Homo sapiens: one gene and its partner. The protein of the gene in region 2 purifies or fractionates together with the protein of the main gene of each other region. This does not show direct contact. Each region holds a gene or a part of one and is shown on either strand. Other genes may lie near its edges.

Evidence for each region. Proteins that work in one complex are often made in the same cells at the same time.
Region 1: the proteins of ETF1 (region 2) and UPF1 purify together in Homo sapiens (affinity purification with western blotting; 2 studies listed by BioGRID and IntAct, with this or other methods). This does not show direct contact.

Annotation. Positions count from the first base shown.
Region 1 is NC_000019.10:18,862,891-18,866,635, forward strand, and holds part of UPF1 (regulator of nonsense transcripts 1), read left to right. Parts: intron 1-547; coding exon 548-722; intron 723-1,279; coding exon 1,280-1,361; intron 1,362-2,398; coding exon 2,399-2,560; intron 2,561-2,670; coding exon 2,671-2,888; intron 2,889-3,153; coding exon 3,154-3,273; 3' UTR 3,274-3,276; intron 3,277-3,630; 3' UTR 3,631-3,745. UniProt on the Homo sapiens protein: RNA-dependent helicase required for nonsense-mediated decay (NMD) of aberrant mRNAs containing premature stop codons and modulates the expression level of normal mRNAs.
Region 2 is NC_000005.10:138,515,569-138,519,313, forward strand, and holds part of ETF1 (eukaryotic peptide chain release factor subunit 1), read right to left. Parts: intron 3,300-3,745; coding exon 3,124-3,299; intron 2,133-3,123; coding exon 1,993-2,132; intron 1-1,992. UniProt on the Homo sapiens protein: Component of the eRF1-eRF3-GTP ternary complex, a ternary complex that mediates translation termination in response to the termination codons. The eRF1-eRF3-GTP complex binds to a stop codon in the ribosomal A-site.

The DNA.
Region 1 (3,745 bases), on a different chromosome or scaffold from region 2:
GGGGACCTGGCCTGTGGCTCCACCCAGCACAGGGAGAGAGCCTGGTGCTCCTTCCGGCTCATATGCGCGGTGGTTCTCCTCTAGGTCACCATGGCTTTGTCATTGGTTACTCCCTCTTTCTAAGGCGCCCTCTTGTTTGGTGGGCAGTATTGGGTGGGTCCCCCCACAGCTTCGTGAGGTGGGCTAGAGGAGCTGGGCATCGGGTCAGTGCCCCGGCCTGCTGGGGGCCCTGTGGGGCCGCGTGTGCCCCGGTGCCTGGAAGGCCGACTCTCTTGACAGCAGGTCTTCTCTCCAAACGTATCCACCCAGCCAGGTGTCTGCCATGGGGCTGCTTAGAGTCGGCCACAAAATCAACCCGTGTGCAGGGTCAGTGGCTTGGCATTGGGCTTTGGGGCCTGTCCCTGTGGCTGGCAGCCTGCCTGCTGCCCGGTCCACGCCTCTGTTGCCTTGGATTTGGGTTCTGAGTGAATGCAGCCTTGCCTCTTGGACCGTCCTGTGAGACGGGCAGCTCTCCACCTGCGTCCTCAGCACTGCGCCCTTGTTGCAGGTATGGCGTCATCATTGTGGGCAACCCGAAGGCACTATCAAAGCAGCCGCTCTGGAACCACCTGCTGAACTACTATAAGGAGCAGAAGGTGCTGGTGGAGGGGCCGCTCAACAACCTGCGTGAGAGCCTCATGCAGTTCAGCAAGCCACGGAAGCTGGTCAACACTATCAACCCGGTGAGCGCCTGCACAGGACAGCAGGGCAGCACGGAGAAACCCGGGCCCAAAACACTGCTGGGAACGTGCCAGCTTGGCCCGTGTGCCCGTGAGCTGAGGGAGGGCTCTCCTAGGGGAGGGTGGGCTCTCCTAGGGGAGGGTGGGCCAGCCCACTTCTTGTCTCCCGAGCCGTGTGTGGCATTTTTGGCTTGGGGCCGCTAAGTCCTGGGTGGCCTCTGGGAATTGGGCTCAGGGCTGCTGTGCTGCATGCAGCAGCCTGGGACCTTGGACACGGGCAGTTGGAAGCTTTGCAAGCCCGGGGTGATCTGGTAGTGAGGGGGTGTGAAGCTTCCTGAGCTGAGGCCCAAGGGTCAGCATCAGAGCCCAGGTCTGCCGAGGAGGGCAGGCGAGACCCAGAGGCCATGAGACAGCAGCTCCCTCCTGTCTCCAGGGAGAGCCCCTGGCACAGTGTCAACACCTCACAGCTGCATACCTGCCACCTCCCAGGCCACCGGGCCCGTGGGAAGTTGTTCCTTCTGTTGAGATGACAAATTCCTCACCTATCTAAACCTTCGCAGGGAGCCCGCTTCATGACCACAGCCATGTATGATGCCCGGGAGGCCATCATCCCAGGCTCCGTCTATGATCGGAGCAGCCAGGGTGAGTCGCTCAGCAGGGGACCTGGCCGACCCCTTGTCCTCACACCGGGATGCTGGCCGTTCCCATGGCTGCAGCTTTAGGTGCCCCCATCTTTCCTTCCCCTCAAGGGCGGTGCCTGGCTCCCTTGGCCTCCCCGCCCCTAGGGCATCTCTAGCCCCGGAACACTCCTGGGGTGTTTGTCTTTAACCAGAGTTTATTCATTTGTGTTTCCTGGTGATCAAGCTAGTTAGCTTTTTCTTGCCTTTTGGTAGGGCAGGGACTGCATGTAGTACAAATAGAACATTTTCATAAAAAGGATTTTTTTTTTCCTTTGGTAAATGCAGGGTGATTTTCATTTATTTTCTTTTTTTTGTTTAGAGACAGGGTCTCCCTATGTTGTCCAGGCTGGTCTCAAACTCCTGCCTCAAGCAGTCCTTCTGCTCAGCCTCCCAAAGTGCTGGGATTACAGGCGTGAGTCACTGCACCTGGCCAATTTGCAGGTGTTTTTTTTTTTTTTTTTTTTTTTGGAGACCGAGTCTCGCTCTGTTGCCCAAGCTGGAGTACAGTGGTGTGATCTTGGCTCACTGCAACCTCCCCCTCTGGGTTCAAGCGATTCTCCTGCCTTGGCCTCCCGAGTAGCTGGGATTACAAGCACCCACCACCATGCCCGGCTAGTTTTTGTGTTTTTAGTAGAAACGAGGTTTCGCCATGTTGGCCTGGCTGGTCTCAAACTCCTGATCTCAGGTGGTCCACCTCGGCTTCCCAGAGTGCTGGGATTATAGGCTTGAGCCAACACGCCCGGCCCCAATTTTCAGTTTTTAAGATCTGTGTAGGCCAATGATTCCCAGCAGACTCTCCTCGGGGAAGGTGCCTGCCCAAGCACCCAGCCCCAGGCAGGCTGCTGTAGTTAACATGGAGTCCTGCGAATCCGCATCTTCAGCCTGGGCAGAGCCAGGACAGATGTGCAGCTCCGGCTGACTGGCTGGTGGGGTGGGTGGGGTATCGCTGGGGTTTGACCGAGGCAGGTGACACCTGCCGTGTTCCACTGTGATTTGCAGGCCGGCCTTCCAGCATGTACTTCCAGACCCATGACCAGATTGGCATGATCAGTGCCGGCCCTAGCCACGTGGCTGCCATGAACATTCCCATCCCCTTCAACCTGGTCATGCCACCCATGCCACCGCCTGGCTATTTTGGACAAGCCAACGGGCCTGCTGCAGGTGAGCATCTGTGGCTGCGGCTGGGTGTGGCCCTCCTGAGAGCTCTTGAGGGTGTGCTTGTCTGCGAGGCCCTGGCCTCCTTCGGATCACCCTGGACTGCTGTCTTTCAGGGCGAGGCACCCCGAAAGGCAAGACTGGTCGTGGGGGACGCCAGAAGAACCGCTTTGGGCTTCCTGGACCCAGCCAGACTAACCTCCCCAACAGCCAAGCCAGCCAGGATGTGGCGTCACAGCCCTTCTCTCAGGGCGCCCTGACGCAGGGCTACATCTCCATGAGCCAGCCTTCCCAGATGAGCCAGCCCGGCCTCTCCCAGCCGGAGCTGTCCCAGGTGAGCCCGCCCCTGGGACGGGACTTACCTGAGTGAGGGTGGGGCTATGCACCTGAAACATTCCCTCTGAAGAGCCCCAGAGAGCTGGCCTGGCCCATGTCCACTGTCTGAATTACCTGTCCCTGGGCTGGGGTCATCAGAGTGGGTCTCCTGGGTCTTAGTTTGGGGACGGGTTTTCCATTCTTTTCTCTGGGGCTGCTGAGGGCTGGGTGGATGTGAGCACCCTTGGCCTGTGGCTTGCTTACCTCCTGACCTTGTCTTTCAGGACAGTTACCTTGGTGACGAGTTTAAATCACAAATCGACGTGGCGCTCTCACAGGACTCCACGTACCAGGGAGAGCGGGCTTACCAGCATGGCGGGGTGACGGGGCTGTCCCAGTATTAAAAGGCAAGCCCCCCTGGAGCAGGCCTGGCCCCACCCCAGCCTCAAGGAGAAGGATGGGAGGGGGCTCTCCCCAGGGAGCTGCACTGGAGGGGTGGTATCTGGAAATGTGTGCTGTGCCTGGTGGGGGTCATAGGCCCTCAGGGCCAGCTTGGCCTGTGCCCTTCACTGCTAGTCAGGGTGGCTCCTCACCCCACCCTACCCCATCCTGTCTGCTCCGGGGACCACCGCGGGACCTCAGTTTCCTCATCAGAGTCGGGGAGGGCAGCTCGGGCTCTCCCTCACTGTCCTGTGTGCTGGGTACCTGTGGGGCTCAGGTCGCAGCCTCTCACCGCCTCCTGCCCTTCTCCCTCCTGACAGGTGGCGGCGGAAGAGCTAAGCAACGTGGCTTAGTCCATCAGCATCTTATTCTGGGTAATAAAAAATAAAAATAAACGGATACCTGTTTTCCACTGCTAAAACTGAAGCACCACTG
Region 2 (3,745 bases):
ATATAATTACCCTGATAAACAGGATATAACCCTCTCAGTTAAAGCTAAAATGTACAAAGTTAGCAAGATTAAACAGTATCTTAGAAAAGGAGTTAAGGTTTGGAAAAAAGCCAACAAGGCTAACTCAGTAAGTGAGCAAAAGCCAGACAACATGGGTACCTGGCACTGTTTAAATCAACAAGATTCAAAATCGGCTTTCATCCAACCAGATACAGGTAAGTGGTTTCAGTGGCTGAGAGGCTCCCTGAAAAACCCTCTGCTGTAAGTAGAGTGTGGTAGTGAAGAGAAAAACAGTCTGGATTGTCTATGCAGTCGACCAAGATCCAACTATAAATGGACTTCCCATCAAGTTAGCAAAAATCATCCACTGTAAACTGTCGACAAATGTCAGTTCTAATTCCACTGTAGAGGTTTTTCCCTAGGTTGATGAAAGGCAAGAGAATGAACTAAGGAGCCAGCTGTGAATTCTTGATTGTTCTACTGTTGACTGATTTAGGTCACTCTAATGAGGTTTCCTTTCCACTGTTCAAGTTCATCCTATGGCAGCTTTGTCACTCAAAAGTTTCAGGGGAAAGGGGGGAAAATGAGTTCTTACAGTTCTGCTACTAAAAATTTTACAATTGTTATGTGAAAACTGAGTGCAATAACTCAAAGAGTATAACTGGACTGCTTGTAACACAATGGATATACGCTTGAGGAAATGGGTACCCTATTTTCCATAGTGTGATAGCTCACATTGCATGCCTGTATCAAAACATCTCATGTACCCCATATACACCTACTATGTACCCACAAAAATCAAAACACACACACACACACACACTTTGGGAGGCTGAAGCGAGCAGATCACTTGAGGCCAGGAGTTTGGGACAGGCCTGGCCAACATGGCAAAACTCTGTCTCTACTAAAAAAACACAAAAAATTAGCCAGGCATGGTGGTGCACACCTGTAATCCCAGTTATTCAGGAGGCTTGAGGCACAAGAATCGCTTGAACCATGGAGATGGAGGTTGCAGTGGGCCAAGATTGCACCACTGCACTCTAGCCTGGGCGACAGTGTGAGACTCTGTCTCAAAACATGCTGAATGACTAGTGTCATAATAAATGTAAATTGCCTTACTTTTTGAAAACAGACAGCTTTGTAAAATGGTACAACGGTTTGGAAAACAGTCTAGCAACTTCTTAAAAAGTTAAACATAATTACTATATAACCTACACGATTCCACAAATCTAAGAAACATGAAAATGTATGGTCACATAGAAACTTGTCCATGAATGTTCACAGCAGCATTATTCAGAACAGCCAAACAGTGCAAACCACTCAAATGTAAAACTGATGAAACGAGAAGCTATATAAAATATGAAATATGGCATATAGGTATACAATGGAATACTACTTGGTAATCAAAAGGGATGAAATGTACTGATGAATGCTACCACATGGAACCTTAAAAGTATAAAGTAAAAGAAGCCAGTCACAAAAGGCCACAAACTATATGATTCCATTATATAAAATGTCCAGGCTGGGCGGGGTTGCTCATGCCTGTAATCCTAGTACTTTGGGAGGCTAAGGTGGGTGGATCACGAGGTCAGGAGTCTGAGACCAGCCTGACCAATGTGTTTAAACACCATCTCTACTAAAAATACAAAAAAATTAGCTGGGTGTGGTGGCATGTGCCTGCAATCCCAGCTACTCAGGAGGCTGAGACAGGAGAATCCCTTGAATCTGGGAGGCGGAGCTTGCAGTGAGCCGAGATCATACCACTGCACTCCAGCCTGGGAGACAGAGCGAGACTCCGTCTAAAAAAAAAATAAAAAAATAAAAATAAAAAAATAAAAATAAAAGAAGTACAGCACAAGCATATCTATGGAAAGAAAATATAGTGGTTGCCTAGAATGAGACAGGTAAGTGGGAGGGATGGGGGACTGACTGCTAATGGGTACGGGGAAAGAATTCTGGAGCGATGAAAATGTTCTGGGTTTGACTTCTTACCTCTGTATGGAATTTGTTGTCACACAAATACAATGACGTATTAATTGGTTTGAAAGGTTCAAAGTCAATGTTGACTTTCTTTTCCTTTCCTTCTTCTGTTACAATTGTTCCACAGTATACAACCAGACCATTTGGAGGTACTGCAAAGAACACAAACAATTTTTCTACTTTACCCCATATCTAGTTTTTCGTCAATTAATAGAAAATGTTCCCATAGCCTATTTTCCCTGCCTGATCCTTTAAGTCATAATTTAAATAAAGCAGAAAAAGCTTGAAATCTCTCAGGCAGAACTCTCTCCCTAATTTTAAAACTTCTTCTGAGACGTTTCAGTACGATTTATTCTTTAAAGTAAACAGGCTGGACGTGGTGGTGGCTCACGCCTGTAATCCCAGCACTCTGGGAGGCCGAGGTAGGCGGATCACCTGACGTCAGGAATTCAAGACCAACCTGGCCAACATGGTGAAACCCCATCTCTACGAAAAATACAAAAAGTAGCCAGGCGTGGTGATGGGCACCTGTAGTCCCAGCTACTCGAGAGGCTGAGACGGAAGAATCACTTCAACCTGGGAGGCTTGTGGTGAGCTGAGATCGGATTACTGCACTTCAGTCTCTGGGTGACAGAGCAAGACTCTGTCTCATCCCAAAAAAAAAAAAAAAAAAAAAAATTGAGACAACGCCTCACTCTGTCACTCAGGCTAGTGTGCAGCAGCGAGATCGTGGCTCACTGCAACTCCCACCTCCCGGGTCCAGTTGATTCTCTCGCCTCAGCCTCCAGAGTAGATGGGACTACAGGTGTGTGCCACCAGGCCTGGCTAACTTTTGTATTTTTTGTAGAGACAGGGTTTCACACCATGTTGTCCAGGCTGGTCTCGAACTCCTGACCTCAAGTGATCCACCTGCCTCAGCTTCCCAAAGTGCTGGGATTACAGGCATGAGCCACTGTGCCTGGCCTACTTAACTTTCAATAAACAAAAAACAAAACAAAACAAAAAAGCTAACCACCAAGGCCAAAGAGACACTGATGACAGCCGACTTAAGGGAACATTAGTGAACAAAGCACCATAGCAGCATCACAGTATAAAACATAACCAAAATGTGTAGAGAAGGAAAAGGAGCAAACTCCAGATTACCTTTGTTATAAAGTTTGAGTCTTTGTTGTACAGATGTAATGGCTCCCAGGACTGAAAGGCGGTTTACTCGTGACTTAATGTTAGATGCAGTTCCAAACTCATCCGCTAACATTTTTGCCACTCGTGAAATCTGGTCTTTGGGAGGAATGATCAATGATATCATGCTGGTGCCATTGCTGTGGAAGAAAGAATAACTCATTAGGGATTTAAATATCATGTAAGTAAACTCATGTTTCTCTCTGGTAAAAGCAAGCTACAGGGAGATGCCCCAAAGTTATGGAAACAGGTCACTCTCAAAGGAGTAATGTAGGGACTATATTAGTCTTGTTTATGAACGTATACACAGAGTTAGGAACAGTGTTCAGAATCTAGTGCTCAATTTGATTGAATAGTGAGGTAAGTTATGTAAAGAATACACTTGGAGAGATACTTGAGAAACACCTCATTTCCTAAAGAAAGAAGCTATCTATGATAAATAAGGAGTGTCAACAGGCTGGAATTTGGTAGTGAATCTGTCCGTGGGAGAGCCTTCAAATGTGGTGGTTGAGTGGGAGACGCCATGACAGGATGATGCAATGAGTCTTTCCAAAGTCTAGGCATATTTGTAATCAAGAATTTAGTA